Regions from separate parts of the Homo sapiens genome. Here regions 1, 2, 3, 4 and 5 are each reported to be linked to region 6. The links are microRNA targets in miRTarBase. Many come from high-throughput screens and were not tested one by one. Region 6 holds a microRNA gene; each other region holds the end of a gene's coding sequence.

What was found. The annotated mature microRNA hsa-miR-6744-3p reads GGGCCUCUCUUGUCAUCCUGCAG and lies in region 6 at 985-1,007, shown strand. An mRNA with a match to its seed (bases 2 to 7 or 8) in the 3' UTR can be bound and repressed. Matches are read on the target gene's strand: a 7mer-m8 pairs with bases 2 to 8, a 7mer-A1 pairs with bases 2 to 7 and ends in A, and an 8mer does both.
Region 1: miRTarBase lists ANTXR1 as a target of hsa-miR-6744-3p. The part of its 3' UTR that is shown has no 7-base or 8-base seed match.
Region 2: the mRNA of TMEM186 is a reported target of hsa-miR-6744-3p. The part of its 3' UTR that is shown has no 7-base or 8-base seed match.
Region 3: the mRNA of RTL10 is a reported target of hsa-miR-6744-3p. Seed matches in the 3' UTR shown: 7mer-m8 at 1,163-1,169 and 7mer-A1 at 1,716-1,722.
Region 4: miRTarBase lists TOMM40 as a target of hsa-miR-6744-3p. The part of its 3' UTR that is shown has no 7-base or 8-base seed match.
Region 5: the mRNA of SIAH3 is a reported target of hsa-miR-6744-3p. Seed matches in the 3' UTR shown: 7mer-m8 at 1,853-1,859.

The regions. Positions count from the first base shown.
Region 1 is chr2:69,245,014-69,248,013 of GRCh38, forward strand. It overlaps ANTXR1 (ANTXR cell adhesion molecule 1), which reads left to right. Exons shown (of 18, transcript NM_032208.3): 18 at 212-3,000. The coding sequence ends at 472. Among named protein-coding and RNA genes, the nearest start is that of GFPT1, 140 kb to the right of the region's middle.
Region 2 is chr16:8,793,268-8,796,388 of GRCh38, reverse strand. It overlaps TMEM186 (transmembrane protein 186), which reads left to right. Exons shown (of 2, transcript NM_015421.4): 2 at 1-1,209. The coding sequence ends at 437. Among named protein-coding and RNA genes, the nearest start is that of TMEM186, 2.8 kb to the left of the region's middle.
Region 3 is chr22:19,848,240-19,851,339 of GRCh38, reverse strand. It overlaps RTL10 (retrotransposon Gag like 10), which reads left to right. Exons shown (of 3, transcript NM_024627.6): 3 at 1-3,100. The coding sequence ends at 173. The region is part of intron 2 of GNB1L (G protein subunit beta 1 like); the gene reads left to right. Among named protein-coding and RNA genes, the nearest start is that of GNB1L, 5.1 kb to the left of the region's middle.
Region 4 is chr19:44,902,677-44,905,791 of GRCh38, forward strand. It overlaps TOMM40 (translocase of outer mitochondrial membrane 40), which reads left to right. Exons shown (of 9, transcript NM_001128917.2): 9 at 354-1,013. The coding sequence ends at 493. Among named protein-coding and RNA genes, the nearest start is that of APOE, 1.6 kb to the right of the region's middle. RefSeq lists an enhancer at 2,437-3,115.
Region 5 is chr13:45,780,871-45,783,991 of GRCh38, forward strand. It overlaps SIAH3 (siah E3 ubiquitin protein ligase family member 3), which reads right to left. Exons shown (of 2, transcript NM_198849.3): 2 at 1-3,121. The coding sequence ends at 2,513. Among named protein-coding and RNA genes, the nearest start is that of SIAH3, 69 kb to the right of the region's middle. RefSeq lists enhancers at 2,279-2,779, 2,780-3,121.
Region 6 is chr11:1,255,664-1,258,784 of GRCh38, forward strand. MIR6744 (microRNA 6744) reads left to right here and starts at 942; the gene lies at 942-1,007. It overlaps MUC5B (mucin 5B, oligomeric mucus/gel-forming), which reads left to right. Exons shown (of 49, transcript NM_002458.3): 38 at 493-562; 39 at 1,008-1,108; 40 at 1,577-1,608; 41 at 1,867-2,047; 42 at 2,436-2,540; 43 at 2,667-2,704.

The sequences.
Region 1 (3,000 bases), not on the chromosome of region 6:
GGAAAAGATGAATTTTAACAGTTTTGCAACACAGTCCAGGAAAAGGAAGTGGGGAGCTCACTTGTCCTCAAGTTCTACTATGTGCCACTAGAGAGTTGTCACCAACAGGGGCCAGCTTTCCACATATTGCTTGCAAGCCGCCCACCACAGCACCACAGGCCCTGATGTGAGGCCGTCCGCTCACGTTTCCTTCTCTCCAATTCTTTTCTAGGGGCGCTGCATCAACTTCACCAGGGTCAAGAACAACCAGCCAGCCAAGTACCCACTCAACAACGCCTACCACACCTCCTCGCCGCCTCCTGCCCCCATCTACACTCCCCCACCTCCTGCGCCCCACTGCCCTCCCCCGCCCCCCAGCGCCCCTACCCCTCCCATCCCGTCCCCACCTTCCACCCTTCCCCCTCCTCCCCAGGCTCCACCTCCCAACAGGGCACCTCCTCCCTCCCGCCCTCCTCCAAGGCCTTCTGTCTAGAGCCCAAAGTTCCTGCTCTGGGCTCTCTCAGAAACTTCAGGAGATGTTAGAACAAGTCTTTCCAGTTAGAGAAGAGGAGTGGTGATAAAGCCCACTGACCTTCACACATTCTAAAAATTGGTTGGCAATGCCAGTATACCAACAATCATGATCAGCTGAAAGAAACAGATATTTTAAATTGCCAGAAAACAAATGATGAGGCAACTACAGTCAGATTTATAGCCAGCCATCTATCACCTCTAGAAGGTTCCAGAGACAGTGAAACTGCAAGATGCTCTCAACAGGATTATGTCTCATGGAGACCAGTAAGAAAATCATTTATCTGAAGGTGAAATGCAGAGTTGGATAAGAAATACATTGCTGGGTTTCTAAAATGCTGCCTTCCTGCCTCTACTCCACCTCCATCCCTGGACTTTGGACCCTTGGCCTAGGAGCCTAAGGACCTTCACCCCTGTGCACCACCCAAGAAAGAGGAAAACTTTGCCTACAACTTTGGAAATGCTGGGGTCCCTGGTGTGGTAAGAAACTCAACATCAGACGGGTATGCAGAAGGATGTTCTTCTGGGATTTGCAGGTACATAAAAAATGTATGGCATCTTTTCCTTGCAAATTCTTCCAGTTTCCAAGTGAGAAGGGGAGCAGGTGTTTACTGATGGAAAAGGTATGTTGCTATGTTGATGTGTAAGTGAAATCAGTTGTGTGCAATAGACAGGGGCGTATTCATGGGAGCATCAGCCAGTTTCTAAAACCCACAGGCCATCAGCAGCTAGAGGTGGCTGGCTTTGGCCAGACATGGACCCTAAATCAACAGACAATGGCATTGTCGAAGAGCAACCTGTTAATGAATCATGTTAAAAATCAAGGTTTGGCTTCAGTTTAAATCACTTGAGGTATGAAGTTTATCCTGTTTTCCAGAGATAAACATAAGTTGATCTTCCCAAAATACCATCATTAGGACCTATCACACAATATCACTAGTTTTTTTTGTTTGTTTGTTTTTTGTTTTTTTTCTTGGTAAAGCCATGCACCACAGACTTCTGGGCAGAGCTGAGAGACAATGGTCCTGACATAATAAGGATCTTTGATTAACCCCCATAAGGCATGTGTGTGTATACAAATATACTTCTCTTTGGCTTTTCGACATAGAACCTCAGCTGTTAACCAAGGGGAAATACATCAGATCTGCAACACAGAAATGCTCTGCCTGAAATTTCCACCATGCCTAGGACTCACCCCATTTATCCAGGTCTTTCTGGATCTGTTTAATCAATAAGCCCTATAATCACTTGCTAAACACTGGGCTTCATCACCCAGGGATAAAAACAGAGATCATTGTCTTGGACCTCCTGCATCAGCCTATTCAAAATTATCTCTCTCTCTAGCTTTCCACAAATCCTAAAATTCCTGTCCCAAGCCACCCAAATTCTCAGATCTTTTCTGGAACAAGGCAGAATATAAAATAAATATACATTTAGTGGCTTGGGCTATGGTCTCCAAAGATCCTTCAAAAATACATCAAGCCAGCTTCATTCACTCACTTTACTTAGAACAGAGATATAAGGGCCTGGGATGCATTTATTTTATCAATACCAATTTTTGTGGCCATGGCAGACATTGCTAATCAATCACAGCACTATTTCCTATTAAGCCCACTGATTTCTTCACAATCCTTCTCAAATTACAATTCCAAAGAGCCGCCACTCAACAGTCAGATGAACCCAACAGTCAGATGAGAGAAATGAACCCTACTTGCTATCTCTATCTTAGAAAGCAAAAACAAACAGGAGTTTCCAGGGAGAATGGGAAAGCCAGGGGGCATAAAAGGTACAGTCAGGGGAAAATAGATCTAGGCAGAGTGCCTTAGTCAGGGACCACGGGCGCTGAATCTGCAGTGCCAACACCAAACTGACACATCTCCAGGTGTACCTCCAACCCTAGCCTTCTCCCACAGCTGCCTACAACAGAGTCTCCCAGCCTTCTCAGAGAGCTAAAACCAGAAATTTCCAGACTCATGAAAGCAACCCCCCAGCCTCTCCCCAACCCTGCCGCATTGTCTAATTTTTAGAACACTAGGCTTCTTCTTTCATGTAGTTCCTCATAAGCAGGGGCCAGAATATCTCAGCCACCTGCAGTGACATTGCTGGACCCCTGAAAACCATTCCATAGGAGAATGGGTTCCCCAGGCTCACAGTGTAGAGACATTGAGCCCATCACAACTGTTTTGACTGCTGGCAGTCTAAAACAGTCCACCCACCCCATGGCACTGCCGCGTGATTCCCGCGGCCATTCAGAAGTTCAAGCCGAGATGCTGACGTTGCTGAGCAACGAGATGGTGAGCATCAGTGCAAATGCACCATTCAGCACATCAGTCATATGCCCAGTGCAGTTACAAGATGTTGTTTCGGCAAAGCATTTTGATGGAATAGGGAACTGCAAATGTATGATGATTTTGAAAAGGCTCAGCAGGATTTGTTCTTAAACCGACTCAGTGTGTCATCCCCGGTTATTTAGAATTACAGTTAAGAAGG
Region 2 (3,121 bases), not on the chromosome of region 6:
GGTTCCTGTCACGACTGAAGTTGGCACAGACTGCCCTGACAGTGGTAGCTTTGCCACCAGGCTATTACTTGTACTCCCAGGGCCTCCTCACTCTCAACACCGTGTGCCTCATGAGTGGGATATCGGGCTTTGCCCTGACCATGCTGTGCTGGATGAGCTATTTCTTACGGAGACTGGTTGGTATCCTGTATCTGAATGAGTCTGGCACCATGCTGCGGGTGGCCCATCTGAACTTCTGGGGCTGGCGGCAGGACACATACTGTCCCATGGCAGATGTGATTCCCCTGACAGAAACCAAGGACCGGCCTCAGGAGATGTTTGTGCGTATCCAGCGGTACAGTGGGAAACAGACCTTCTACGTCACCCTGCGCTATGGACGCATCCTGGACAGAGAGCGTTTCACACAGGTGTTTGGGGTACATCAGATGCTCAAGTGAACAACTGGGACCTGGACCTCTGGGTAACCCTGGGTCGCCTGGATTAACAGGAAGGCTGAGGGTGTGGGCAAGGCTGAAGAAAGGGGACTGGGTACTTGGAGACTTTGCCTGGGCCCCTGGGAACATGTGTTTTGTGGTGAATAAATTCACAAGGCAAGAGCTGGTGTACAGGTTTAGGAAAAAGGCTCTAAGCAAGTTCTTACAGCACTTGTTTGTGACATTCAGTCAGATAATGGCCAGAAGTTTTTGTTAAGAGCCAGTTCTTAGAAGAACCTATGCCAAGGTCACCCATAGAGTCCATTGGTGTGAAAGAGAAAGGCAAAGAGGTGTGGCGGGGGAGCGTAAGATTTGGAGTCAGAAGTCTCAGTTCTGTCATTTGTCCTGGAGCAGGTTATTGAGTCTCTTTGAATCTTGGTTTTCACATCTGTAAAATGGAAAGTCCTGCTTGTTTCATGGGATGGGTGTGGGAATAAACAATAAATGTCAAACGTGTGGCAGACTCAACAGCCTACAGCAGATATTATTAAGCATTTGGTCAGAGGTTTTAGCAGGGAGAAAGGCTTCGAGCAGTCAGCAGGGACTTCCAGAGCCCTGTGCTGTGCCCCTCACATATCCAGCGGCAGAAGGGTCTGTCAGGATGTTAACTACACATTGACGAGCAGATGTCGTCCAGGTAGGCACGAAACCCCAGTTGAGATTTGTTCACCACCCAGAGGTCTAGAGGCTCTTGCTTTGGATGGCCCTGCAGTGTAATAAAGCCAAATGCACCGGATGCTGGTACGTTATTTTATAAACTTAAGCCAGTTATATACATTGCCCCACATAATTAATAATATATGTTCATTATACAATTTGTAACACAGTAAAGAGGAAGGAAGGCATGATCTTTATTATTTTGCCACTCGAAAGTCAATAAGAATGTTTTATCGCTGGGGGCGGTGGCTCACACCTGTAATCCCAGCACGTTGGGAGGTCAAGGTGGCGGATCACGAGGTCAGGAGATCGAGGCCATCCTCGCTAACAGGGTGAAACCGTGTCTCCACTAAAAAATACAAAAAAATTAGCTGGGCGTGGTGGCAGGTGCCTGTAGTCCCAGCTACTCGGGAGGCTGAGGCAGGACAATGGTGTGAACCTGGGAGGCGGAGTTTGCAGTGAGCCGAGATCACGCCACTGCACTCCAGCCTGGGCGACAGAGTGAGACTCCGTCTCAAAAAAAAAATATTTTTTTTTATTGTGTAGCCTTCCATTTTTCTTAACCATACCAAGATACACCTAACAAATTTATCCTTTTAATCATTTTTAAGTGTGCAATTCAGGGACATTAAGTATATTAACAATGTTGTACAGGCTGGGCACACTGTCTCATGCCTGTAATCCCAGCACTTTGGGAGGCTGAGGCGTGTGGATCACTTGAAGTCAGGAGTTCAAGACCAGCCTGGCCAACATGGCAAAACCCTGTCTCTACTGAAAATACAAAAATTAGCTGGGCATGGTGGTGGGCACTTGTATTCCCAGCTACTTGAGAAGCTTGAACCCGGGAGGCAGAGGTTGCAGTGAGCCGAGATTGCACCAATGCACTCCAGCCTGGGAGACAGCCAGACTATCTCAAAAACAAACAAAACAAAAAATGTTGTACAACCGTCACCACCATCTATTTCCAGAACATTTTCATTATCCCAAACAGAACTAATATACCCATTGAGCAATAATTTCCTTCTTTTTCCAGCCCTTGGCAACCACTAACCTGCTTTCTGTCCCTCTGGATTCACCTGTTCTGGATATTTCATATAAATGGAATCATACAATATGTGACCCTTTGTATCTGGCTCTTTTTTTTTTTTTTTTTTGAGTTGAAGTCTCGCTCTGTTTCCCAGGCCAGAGAGCAGTGGCGCGATGTCCACTCACTGCAACTTCCGCCTCACCAGCTCAAATGATTCTGCCTCAGCCTCCCAAGTAGCTGGGATTATAGGTGCCTGACGCCAAGCCTGGCTAATTTTTGTATTTTTAGTAGAGATGGGGTTTCACCATGTTGTCCAGGCTGACCTGGAATCTCTGACCTCAAGTGATCACCCACCTCGGCCTCCCACAGTGCTGGGATTATAGGCGTGAGCCAGTGCGGCTGGCCTGTATCTGGCTTCTTTGACTTGGTGTAGTGTTGTCAAGGTGCATCCGTGTTGTAGCATATGTCAGTGCTATTTCTTTTTTATGGTTAAATATATTTACGGGTGCAGTGTGTATTCTCTGTGTGTGCCACATTTTGTTTGTCCATCTGTTGATGGACATTTGAGTTGTCGTCACCTTTTGACTACTGATGAATGAACATTTGGCTATTGCTGTGAACACTGGTATACGAGTATCTGTTTGAGTCCCTGCTTTCAGTTGTTTTGGGTACGTACTGAGAAGTGGATTAACTGGATCCTGTGGTAATTCTGTTTATTTTTGAGGACCTGCCACTTTTCCACAGCAGCTGTACCATTTTACATTCTCACCAGCAACAGACAAGGGTTCCTGTTTCTCTACATTCTTGTCAACAGTGGTTACTTTTCCTTTTTTTTAAATTTGAGATGGAGTCTTACTCTGTCACCCAGACTGGGTTGCAGTGGTGTGATCTTGGCTCACTGCAGACTCCGCCTCTCAGGTTCAAGCGATTCTCCTGCCTCAGCCTCCTGAGTAGCTGGGATTAC
Region 3 (3,100 bases), not on the chromosome of region 6:
ATCCTCCTGCCCAGAGACCAGACCCAGCTCATCCAGGAGGTCCAAAACCCCAGAAAACAGAGGAGGAGGTTTTGGAGACAGAGGGAGACCAGGAGGTGTCCTTAGGTACCCCACAGGAGGTGGTGGAGGCCCCGGAGACCCCAGGAGAGCCACCACTTTCTCCTGGGTTCTGAACACAGCCCAGGTGGGAACAATGCTGCCCCTCATGATGAAGTGGCCTGTGTGGCTTGAGCGCCCCATAGTCCCCAGTCAGAGCAGAGTGGTGTCCCCAGATGACTTCAGACCCCATAGCTGGGCAAGATGCGCTTGTTTTGGACTCTGCGCTGAGCAGAACCAGCTCCCCCAACTCCAGCAGAGCTTGACCTCCGCCCTGTGCCCTTTCCCTGCTGCTGGCTCTCTGCTGCATCCCTGCCCGTCTTCTGGGAGTGCCGTCTCACCCAGGCCTGCTCCCACGAGGGGGTCGTTTTGTAGATCAACTCTCAGCAGATAGTTGCATCATCTTTGTCACCTCCACCCCCATAAAACACCCCCCTTGGTGTCTTCCACACTGGCTGGGACTGAACTGGGTCTGCCACGTCTGCCCTGTTGGGACCTCGTTCCTGTATGGGGTTTCTGTGTCTGTCCCCCTAGCCCCACCCTCTCTGCTCCCTGTGACTTCTGTCCCAGCTGGAATGTGAGGAAGGCTGCCTGGAGGAAGTGGCCACTTTGATTCTGGGGGATGAGTGGGATAGCATCTTGGCAAAGAATGATGTTTCCTGTGGGATTACCAGCAGTTCTGGGCAGCTGGAAGGTTTGGATGCAGGAAGGTGGGATGCAAGCCCCTTGCCAGGCTCAGCTGCAGGCATTCGCCCTTTGTGTGTTAACACTGTAGCTCTAATCGTGCCTGGTGTTCTGAAGCAGGCTCCTCTTCCCTGCTGCTGTGCTGCCATCCCCTGCTCACTCCGCACTCGCATGCATTGCGGATTCAGCACTTAAGCCCTAGTGTGTAAATGACTTGGATCTCCCTCCTGGCAGACTGTGACCCTCAGCACAGGGGCTCTGTCTTAGTCAGCTCTGTGGCCTGGTACACAATTGGTGCTCATTAAACACGTGTTGGATTACTGGCTGAGGTGGTGCAGTGGCTGCCTACCAGCAAGTCTTTGTTTCCCATTCTGTCAGGAGCAGAGGCCTGGCCATGAGCATTCCAGGTCAGCATTGCAGCTGTGGTTTCTGGCAGGGGCTTTGAGGGTCCAAGGGTCTGATCAAAGAAGCTGGGTGGGGCTGAGTAGGGGGTGGGTGGCTCTGCAGGTAGAGAACTGACTTCCGAGAGCTGTAGGTGAAGTGAGGACCAGGCAGCAGTCCAGAGCTGTGAGGCCCCAGGCCCAGAGGAATGGAATGAAGAAAGACCTGTTCCACACAAGGAGGGGTTTTCTAGTGGAAGCTGAGCTTGGAAGCTCCTGGAGCCAAGTTTACCACAGGATAGGCAGGTACAGCCGCCCAGTGTGTGCAGTGTGTGCCCACTCTGGTGCTTGGACAAGAAGTTCAAGTCCCTTTCAGGTTTACAATTGTGAAAACAACAAAACAACACCTTCCTGGAAAGTAGGAAGAAAAAGCAGAAATGTGAATTGGAAATACAGCCAACTATTTTAGGAAAAACTAATTAGCAAGCATCTGATTAAACTTATTCAGAAACTGGCCGGGAGCAGTGTCTCACACCTGTAATCCCAGCACTCTGGGAGGCCAAGGTGGGTGGATCACCTGAGGTCAGGAGTTCAAGACCAGCCTGACCAGCATGGAGAAATCCATCTCTCCTAAAAATACAAAATTAGCCAAGTGTGGTGGTGCATGCCTGTAATCTCAGCTACTTGGGAGGCTGAGGCAGAAGAATTGCTTGAACCCAGGAGGCAGAGGGTGTGGTGAGCCGAGATCACGCCATTGCACTCCAGCCTGGACAACAAGAGTGAAACTCCATCCCAAAAAAAAAAAAACAACAAAAAACAAAAACCTTATTTAGAAAAATATAAATTGTTGGGATTATTTTATGGTAACTATCACTAGAAAAGGCTCTGGGTTCAGATGGTTTTATGTGTGAGTTATTTCAGGGCACAGATACCTTGTAGGTAAAACAACTGGAAACCTTGGAAATAGGTGGGAAGCTATTTTTAGAAAGCAGGTATAGCCCTGGTAGCAAAGCAAGTGAGCTGGCAGAAGAAACCCATTTTCAGTCTTGATTCTGGTCAGATGTGAGAAGTCCCTGGATGTCCTGGCCCAGCCCCATGCTTCTGTGCCAGGTCACAGCTGCCCTCCGTCCGATGACTCAGGCCCCATCCCCCCTTTTGTGGGTTGGGTCAGACTGCTCCCTGATGCCTACCTCCAGTGCACTGTGGCCTGGCTCACCTGTGGGTCTGGCAGTAGAACCCAGAGTTGCTCTCTAGGATGGACAGCCTAGTCACCCAGCTGACCTTTACCCTGTCCCACAGGCTTCTGGACAGGCCACCTTCCCCATCTCCCTTTAGTGGACCTGAAGTGGATACTCCAGCCTGGGATTGCTGCCTTCTCTTTTGAACCCTGTCCTATTGGGGCTTTGGGGCTTTTGTGCCCTTGGGACCCAGGCAGCTCCTGGGGGTGTGTGAGTTATGGTCTGCCGTGTGTCTGAGGGCCAGTCATGCAGCATCCACCTAGGCAGGCTTGAGAGTCCTTGGGAGAGTCCAGGTGACCTGGTTTTTAATTAAAACGCGTCCTGTTTATTGTGGTTGGGCTCTGCCCAGAAAGGAAGGTAGGGCCTTGAAGTGGTGATGTCCAGGTTTCCTGCACAGGTAGGGTGGAGGCAACGATGGACTCTGGCATGGCCTTCCAGACAGGCAGTGCACACAGCTCCTTTCAGAGTGGCTTTGTTGCCAGCTGCTGCAGCACCTGCTTTCAGACAGATGATGACCAAGCTGCTTTCCTGCTGGGGGAAGGAGGCATTCCCCCTGGGTTGTTTTTCTCTTCTGGCCCCCACACACTGGCAGACCCGAAGGCAGGGTGCTCAGGAGCTGCAGAGCCTGGCAGGGTTTGCTGGACATGCTCAGGGACGGGCCATGGTGCTGGCTCTGCTTTCTAATCATGGTGTCAGTCCTTC
Region 4 (3,115 bases), not on the chromosome of region 6:
TGTTTGAGCCTCCTGCTGAGCACTGCTGGGGCCACAGCGGTGACCAGCCCTGTCTTCACGGGACTCAGTGAGAGGAACAGATTCATCCGCAGAGTGGGCAGGACTAGGTTGGGGGAACCCAGGGGTCTAGAGGGCTTTTCAGAGGGCAGGGGTCACTGAGCGGAGAGCAGAGGAGGAGTGAGCCATTTGCTCCAGCGTGAAGTTGTTGGTGTGATGGGGTTTCAGGGTGGCAGGAGCAGTGTGGTTAAAGGTCTGGAAGCTGTCGGCATGTGGCTGGTATCCAAGGTGGCCAGGAACTCTGCATGGATATGGTGGGAAGCTGGCACGCCTCTCACCTCAGCTCTTCCCTGCAGGCTCTGTGGATAGCAACTGGATCGTGGGTGCCACGCTGGAGAAGAAGCTCCCACCCCTGCCCCTGACACTGGCCCTTGGGGCCTTCCTGAATCACCGCAAGAACAAGTTTCAGTGTGGCTTTGGCCTCACCATCGGCTGAGCCCTCCTGGCCCCCGCCTTCCACGCCCTTCCGATTCCACCTCCACCTCCACCTCCCCCTGCCACAGAGGGGAGACCTGAGCCCCCCTCCCTTCCCTCCCCCCTTGGGGGTCGGGGGGGACATTGGAAAGGAGGGACCCCGCCACCCCAGCAGCTGAGGAGGGGATTCTGGAACTGAATGGCGCTTCGGGATTCTGAGTAGCAGGGGCAGCATGCCCAGTGGGCCTGGGGTCCCGGGAGGGATTCCGGAATTGAGGGGCACGCAGGATTCTGAGCACCAGGGGCAGAGGCGGCCAGACAACCTCAGGGAGGAGTGTCCTGGCGTCCCCATCCTCCAAAGGGCCTGGGCCCGCCCCGAGGGGGCAGCGAGAGGAGCTTCCCCATCCCCGGTCAGTCCACCCTGCCCCGTCCACTTTCCCATCTCCTCGGTATAAATCATGTTTATAAGTTATGGAAGAACCGGGACATTTTACAGAAAAAAAACAAAAAACAACAAAAAATATACGTGGGAAAAAAAACGATGGGAGGCCTCCGTTTTCTCAAGTGTGTCTGGCCTGTTTTGAGCATTTCATCCGGAGTCTGGCCGCCCTGACCTTCCCCCAGCCGCCTGCAGGGGGCGCCAGAGGGCCGGAGCACGGAAAGCAGCGGATCCTTGATGCTGCCTTAAGTCCGGCTCAGAGGGGCGCAGCGTGGCCTGGGGTCGCTATCTTCCCATCCGGAACATCTGCCCTGCTGGGGGACACTACGGGCCTTCCCTTGCCTGAGGGTAGGGTCTCAAGGTCACTTGCCCCCAGCTTGACCTGGCCGGAGTGGCTATAGAGGACTTTGTCCCTGCAGACTGCAGCAGCAGAGATGACACTGTCTCTGAGTGCAGAGATGGGGGCAGGGAGCTGGGAGAGGGTTCAAGCTACTGGAACAGCTTCAGAACAACTAGGGTACTAGGAACTGCTGTGTCAGGGAGAAGGGGCTCAAGGACTCGCAGGCCTGGGAGGAGGGGCCTAGGCCAGCCATGGGAGTTGGGTCACCTGTGTCTGAGGACTTGGTGCTGTCTGGATTTTGCCAACCTAGGGCTGGGGTCAGCTGATGCCCACCACGACTCCCGAGCCTCCAGGAACTGAAACCCTGTCTGCCCCCAGGGTCTGGGGAAGGAGGCTGCTGAGTAGAACCAACCCCAGGTTACCAACCCCACCTCAGCCACCCCTTGCCAGCCAAAGCAAACAGGCCCGGCCCGGCACTGGGGGTTCCTTCTCGAACCAGGAGTTCAGCCTCCCCTGACCCGCAGAATCTTCTGATCCCACCCGCTCCAGGAGCCAGGAATGAGTCCCAGTCTCTCCCAGTTCTCACTGTGTGGTTTTGCCATTCGTCTTGCTGCTGAACCACGGGTTTCTCCTCTGAAACATCTGGGATTTATAACAGGGCTTAGGAAAGTGACAGCGTCTGAGCGTTCACTGTGGCCTGTCCATTGCTAGCCCTAACATAGGACCGCTGTGTGCCAGGGCTGTCCTCCATGCTCAATACACGTTAGCTTGTCACCAAACATACCCGTGCCGCTGCTTTCCCAGTCTGATGAGCAAAGGAACTTGATGCTCAGAGAGGACAAGTCATTTGCCCAAGGTCACACAGCTGGCAACTGGCAGAGCCAGGATTCACGCCCTGGCAATTTGACTCCAGAATCCTAACCTTAACCCAGAAGCACGGCTTCAAGCCCCTGGAAACCACAATACCTGTGGCAGCCAGGGGGAGGTGCTGGAATCTCATTTCACATGTGGGGAGGGGGCTCCCCTGTGCTCAAGGTCACAACCAAAGAGGAAGCTGTGATTAAAACCCAGGTCCCATTTGCAAAGCCTCGACTTTTAGCAGGTGCATCATACTGTTCCCACCCCTCCCATCCCACTTCTGTCCAGCCGCCTAGCCCCACTTTCTTTTTTTTCTTTTTTTGAGACAGTCTCCCTCTTGCTGAGGCTGGAGTGCAGTGGCGAGATCTCGGCTCACTGTAACCTCCGCCTCCCGGGTTCAAGCGATTCTCCTGCCTCAGCCTCCCAAGTAGCTAGGATTACAGGCGCCCGCCACCACGCCTGGCTAACTTTTGTATTTTTAGTAGAGATGGGGTTTCACCATGTTGGCCAGGCTGGTCTCAAACTCCTGACCTTAAGTGATTCGCCCACTGTGGCCTCCCAAAGTGCTGGGATTACAGGCGTGAGCTACCGCCCCCAGCCCCTCCCATCCCACTTCTGTCCAGCCCCCTAGCCCTACTTTCTTTCTGGGATCCAGGAGTCCAGATCCCCAGCCCCCTCTCCAGATTACATTCATCCAGGCACAGGAAAGGACAGGGTCAGGAAAGGAGGACTCTGGGCGGCAGCCTCCACATTCCCCTTCCACGCTTGGCCCCCAGAATGGAGGAGGGTGTCTGTATTACTGGGCGAGGTGTCCTCCCTTCCTGGGGACTGTGGGGGGTGGTCAAAAGACCTCTATGCCCCACCTCCTTCCTCCCTCTGCCCTGCTGTGCCTGGGGCAGGGGGAGAACAGCCCACCTCGTGACTGGGGGCTGGCCCAGCCCGCCCTATCCCTGGGGGAGGGGGCGGGACAGGGGGAGCCCTATAATTGGACAAGTCTGGGATCCTTG
Region 5 (3,121 bases), not on the chromosome of region 6:
TCAAATCAAAGAGCCCTTCAGGAACTGTGAAGCTCAAATACAAACTGCTGGTACCATTTCCTATTCCCAATTCTTGGTTGTTAGTTTGCTCCTTCTTCTCCAGTTCTTCACATATGGATATGGAGAGGCCTTTTGGGGAGCACCATAGATGGAAGATAATAATACATTTCCCATGCTTTGTCCTAAAGCTTTCTAGGAACAAAAATATAAGCTCCCATCTGGGATCACTTATTCATAATACAGTCTTGTGTGCAGTGAAAATAACCTGAAGTCATTCCCAGTGTGGCTCAGGTAACTTGGCACAACCAGAAGGCAAAGGTGATGTCTGCAGGAGCCCTAAGGCCCTGTGAATGTTAGTTATATTCTTAGTGAGGTTTTTGTTTGTTGATCTGGAGCACCTGTGATGCTACACAAATGCTTTCAAAGTGGTTGAGTCTCAAAAACCAGGAGAGGACCTGTGGCTTCTAAAGGCATAAGACTTACAGCCAAGGGGGTCTTAGGTTCTGGGAAGGGGATTGGGGATGCAGTGAGGAGGAAGACAGCCAGTCTTTCCACGCACAGACGGACCAGCCTCAGGTGTTCTTGGGCATCTGTGTGATTGGAGGAGGGTGGCTGGTGCCCTGGCAGGGCATCTGAGAGCTCAAAGAATGCGCAGGCCCCAATCCTTTTTTGCGACTGCAGCATCTGACATGTGCCTCCATCTGTGGCAATGTTTTTTGCCCCTCTCAGGGCTCTGACGGAATGCAGTCTCAGCCCCAGGGGCCCAGCGATTACTGTGTGACCAGAGCAGCCTCTGTTATTAAATCTTGTATCGACTGGCACCTCCCTTCTGGTGCGTGGGGGTGTAAGTTGGCACCAAAAGTGGCTGGAGAATTAACCCAGTTGTTGGGGGAAGGGTGTTGTGTTTCAGGATCAGTTATTTTTGGTGGAGAAAAAATTGCAGATGGCCAGCCAGGGCAACCTGCCTGAGACTAAGTAGTCACTTGGATGCCTGCCAGGACCAAGCCGAGGGGGTGAGGTGCAGGAACAGGGCACGGAGAGTAATGTCTGGTTGGCCAAAGGCCCATTTGGCTGTCATGGGAATGTGCTGGGGATGGGGTGCCTGACTTCTGCAGTGTCTGGAGAGCAGCCAGAGGGGGGGGACAAATGCGATAAAAAGGAGCTAGAAGAGGTCCTACTGGGAAGGCTTATAGGTGTCCAACTTAGAACAGAAAAGACAAAGTTGACTAAACATGCTGACTTTCTTCAAATACACGAGAGACTTCTACAAGAAGATGTTGATGAATTGTTCTGACAACCAAATAAGAGAAAGCAGCCTGCGCAGAGGAAATATGGATTTCCGTCACTGTGTCATTCATACTGCAACAGGTGCTGAATACATACTTGAGCCGTGGTCACGTCTGCGTGCTGAATGGGACGGTAGGAGCATTTTAGAAAGTGAGGAAAGGGAAGAGAGCCTCCCAGGTTTGTAAGTGATGACCAGCCCGCCAGGTCAGAGATCCTGGGTGCCACCCTCTGAGTTCTTTGCATTTGATGATGAGTCCTGGTTCTGCTTTTTGCATGATATGAAAGAACTGCACCCTAGGGAGGAACTGATGGATTTTATAACTTGATAATAAAACTCTCTGAGGAGGGAGTGCCCTCTCAGAGATGGGAGATTAATTTTATGTTCTCTTTTTCCTGTTGCTTTTCATCCCCACCCCCCATCTTGCCTATTCTTTTCTACTACTTGCTCAACAGAAGGCAAAGGGGTTTTTAAGAAAGCATCAAAAATCTGAGGACTTTGATTCCAGAGCAGGAGAAGACGGCACAGCCTGGGAACAAGGTGACAAGAGCCCGTCACAGGAAGGTGGGCCTCTGACTACTCTCCTGAGCCCCAGCATCAACCTGAGCACTCAGCACACAATGACACCTCTAGCCCAGTCCCCAGCCCTGCGGTGGAGACACGATCTCCTCATGCCCGGCTAGCTCAGCTTTGACCTTGAGGTTCCTGGGAAGCTGTCAGAGTCATGTCTGGATGGTCTGAAATGTGATCCATCTCTGAGCTGGGCCCCTTCCCCAACCTGCCGACTGCACACGTTCAGATTTAGCTTGCTCTGAAATAGACTGAAAAGAGAAACAAGAAATGATTCTCACACGAAGCCTCCTTTCAACCCCAACAGTCTGCTTGATGGTGTTTTGATCCTTTCAAAACTAGCGGAGAAAGGACTTGGAGGTGACAGGAAAAAACTATTCTGAATAAATCTTACAAACATTCTATAAAACAACACCAACAAGGCAGGACAAACATCACACCAAGATCTTAAATTACAGGATGTTTACATAATATAATGCCCATGGCAGACAAAAACTAAATCTCACAAAGTACCTGAGACAAAAAAATAATAATAATTAAAAATTAAAAAAAAAAAAAAGAAAGGAGAAGAATAAAAAGGAGTCTGGAGTCCTGGTATTGGGAGGTCCCAGGCGTTTCCTAGGGAGGCTGTGTGGGGAGCATCCGTGGCTCCTGGCCTCACATTTCAGCTTCTGAGGGGAGGACCTCTGTCGCGGTGATGGCAATCCCAATGGCAAGGCTGCCGTTGTCAGAGAAGAGCTGTGCCAGCGAGGTGTTGAGGACGAGGCAGTCCCCGTCCGTAATCACCGAGTCCACGCACTCAAGAACAGACCGGGGCGTGGCCTCCCACTTGAGGCGCCGATGGTTTCTGTTGAGCTCCAGGCGATAGGTGAAGCAGTCGGCCTGGGTGGGGGTCCCAATCAGCATCATGGTGGCAAAGAACTGGGGGTGCCCTTCATGCCTCTCCTGTTTCCTCAGCACCAACAGAAAGTGGTGGCCAAGGCAGGAGTGCATGATGATCCAATCAGCCGGCGCGGGGAGGTGCATGTCCGTGGCCAGGAAGACGATCTCGGCTCCCTGGAGGATGTCAACCCTATGGATCTGCCGCAGGTGGGGCACCACCACCTCCAGGCGGCCTTCCCACTGGCAGGAGAACAAGGGACACATGCACAGGCAGGGCGTCACCGGGTTGGCGTGCAGCCCCGCCTCCTGGTGGTGAAGGTGGTGGGGGTGGGCGTGGTGGCGGAGGTGGTGGTGGTGGCGGTGGTGGCAGTGGTGGTGGGAGAG
Region 6 (3,121 bases):
AGTGTCCTGTGCGGTGAGTGGGGGCGGCCCCGGGCCCCCCAGACCCCTCGGCCTCTCTGAGTGTCCTGTGCGGTGAGTGGGGGCGGCCCCGGGCCCCCCAGACCCCTCGGCCTCTCTGAGTGTCCTGTGCGGTGAGTGGGGGCGGCCCCGGGCCCCCCAGACCCCTCGGCCTCTCTGAGTGTCCTGTGCGGTGAGTGGGGGCGGCCCCGGGCCCCCCAGACCCCTCGGCCTCTCTGAGTGTCCTGTGCGGTGAGTGGGGGCGGCCCCGGGCCCCCCAGACCCCTCGGCCTCTCTGAGTGTCCTGTGCGGTGAGTGGGGGCGGCCCCGGGCCCCCCAGACCCCTCGGCCTCTCTGAGTGTCCTGTGCGGTGAGTGGGGGCGGCCCCGGGCCCCCCAGACTCCTCGGCCTCTCTGAGTGTCCTGTGCGGTGATTGGGGGCGGCCCTGGGCCCCCCCAACCCCTTGGCTTGTCTGACACCTCTCTGTGCCCACAGACCTCACCTGCCCACCCACCAAAGTGTACAAGCCATGCGGCCCCATACAGCCTGCCACCTGCAACTCTAGGTAAGTACAGGGATGGCTGGTGCCTTCCCTGCCACCCAGGCCTGCCTGACCGGTCTGGGGGAGCAGGAGGAGGCCAGAGGGTGTCCCACTGTGGGCCACAGATCTCTGGGGTGCCCGAGCCCAGGACTCCTTGGAAAACATCCCCTGCTGCTCCCAGATGCCTTAGAGACAGAGTCAGGCAGGGGGCGCATCCCTGGCCACGCCTGGCCCCGCATCCCCACCTGGCCCCGCCACCGAGCCCCACCCATCCCCGCCCATACTTAGCCCCGCCCACCCCCACCCCAGCCCCACCCGTCCCCGCCCCCAGCCCCGCCCACCCTGAGCCCCGCACTCCACCCATTCATCTCCTTCCCTGCTCCCCACTGCCCATCCTGGGGACTCACGTGGATGACAGTGGAGGCCTCCTGGATCTCTAGGTCTCAGGGCCTCTCTTGTCATCCTGCAGGAACCAGAGCCCACAGCTGGAGGGGATGGCGGAGGGCTGCTTCTGCCCTGAGGACCAGATCCTCTTCAACGCACACATGGGCATCTGCGTGCAGGCCTGCCGTAAGCTCCGCCACCTGTGGCGGGATACGACCCTGGGCCCGACCCAAGCACACACAGGGTGGGAGGAGCCGCCCAGGACCATGATGTGCTCTCCCCTCTCCCCAGCTGACCCCCGTGACCTGTTCTGCCCCACCAGAGCATGGGATGGCCCCAGAGTGGCCCTGAACCCTGCAGAGCCCCCACGGTCCCCTGAAGCCCCACAGGGAGGCTCTGTCCTTGAGTGATCCTGTGATGGTCCCTCCCCTGAGCCCTGCCTCCCACCACCATGGACGAGGCTTCCATGCACTGACAGCTGGGCTCACGGTGCCCTGGCCTGAGCTCCAGCCACATCTGACACCCCAAAAGTTCTCCAGGGCCTTCCATCCCGGGGGGAAGCAGGCTCCAGGCCTGAGAGCACCTCCCATGGCCAGAGGCCCCTCCGCCTGCAAACTCAGCACCCTCCGTGATGCCATGCTGTTTTCTTTCCAGCCTGCGTGGGACCCGATGGGTTTCCTAAATTTGTGAGTGGCTCCACCCCCACCTGCCCTACCCCACCCTCTCGCGAGCTGAGGGAGGGAGGGAAGGAGCATCCCCATCCCACAGGGCAGCTGTGGGGCGCCCGAGTGTGACGTGGACGTGCCAGTGGCTGGTGTGCGCTTCCTGCCCCATCACTCTGGGCCACTCGGGTACCAGCCCGAGGGAGGGGGTGGCTGGACAGATGCCCAGGGTTGACCTGTGTCTGTCCAGGAGCCCTCAGGGACCCCCTTGATCCATTCCAGCCCGGGGAGCGGTGGGTCAGCAACTGCCAGTCCTGCGTGTGTGACGAGGGTTCAGTGTCGGTGCAGTGCAAGCCCCTGCCCTGTGACGCCCAGGGTCAGCCCCCGCCGTGCAACCGTCCCGGCTTCGTAACCGTGACCAGGCCCCGGGCCGAGAACCCCTGCTGCCCCGAGACGGTGTGCGGTAAGACGCTGCAGAGCAGAGGTGCCCGGCATAGGGTGAGGGGGGACAGAGCCGGTGCCCACCAGGGGCCTGTGGGTTGGGCACAGGAGAGCAGAGGAGAGCCACTGTGTCCTGGCGTGACCGCGGCAGGACCACTCGGCAGAGATGGCCTCCAGGTGCTTCATTCTCCTCCTAACGATGAGGCTGGTGACCTCTGGCCTGCCCAGGAGTGGCCCAGGGACGTGGGAAGCAGCGGGGAGGTGGCCAAGCAAGGGGCCTGGAGGGAGCCCCCAGGGGCTGTGAAGCGGTCAGGTCCTCGGGGAAAAGCACGCCTGCGACTTACTCTGGGAACAAGTGGTCGGGAGGAGGAGTGAGCAGCGCCCAGACAGTGGCCTCCATCCTCCCGCAGTGTGCAACACAACCACCTGCCCCCAGAGCCTGCCTGTGTGCCCGCCAGGGCAGGAGTCCATCTGCACCCAGGAGGAGGGCGACTGCTGTCCCACCTTCCGCTGCAGTGAGCGGGGCTGGGGCCGGGCTCCTGGGTGGCCTCTTGCTGGGGGTGGGGGAGTGCAGGATGGTGGGGGCGCTGGAGCACATGCTCCCCACCACTTGTCGAGGGCTTAGCTCCCTTTCCTTCCAGGACCTCAGCTGTGTTCGTACAATGGCACCTTCTACGGGGTAAGGGCACAGCAGTGGGTGGGTGTGGCCCTGGGGCCTGAACATGTGTGTGGGATGCCCCGGGGCTCTCTGAGCCCCACTCCTTGTCTTGACATTCCTGCCCTGAGGGCCGATCCGCACAGGGGCCCTGGACACGTCAGAGCTGGGACATGCTTGGGACTCAGGGGCACCTTACGTCGACAGCCATGAGCTCCACAACTGCTGCCTCTGAGAGGTCCCTTCAGGGGCTCCCAGCAACAGCCTGGGGGCAGCACACACTGGCCTGGGGTCCCCGCCTGCCCGCCCAGATTCCTACCCGCCCGGATTCCTGCCTGCCAGATTCCTGCCCCCATGGGGTCTCTGCCCACCCAGATTCCTGCCCACATGGGGTCTCTGCCTGCCCAGATTCCCTGCCCACCTGTGGTCCCTGTGTGCATC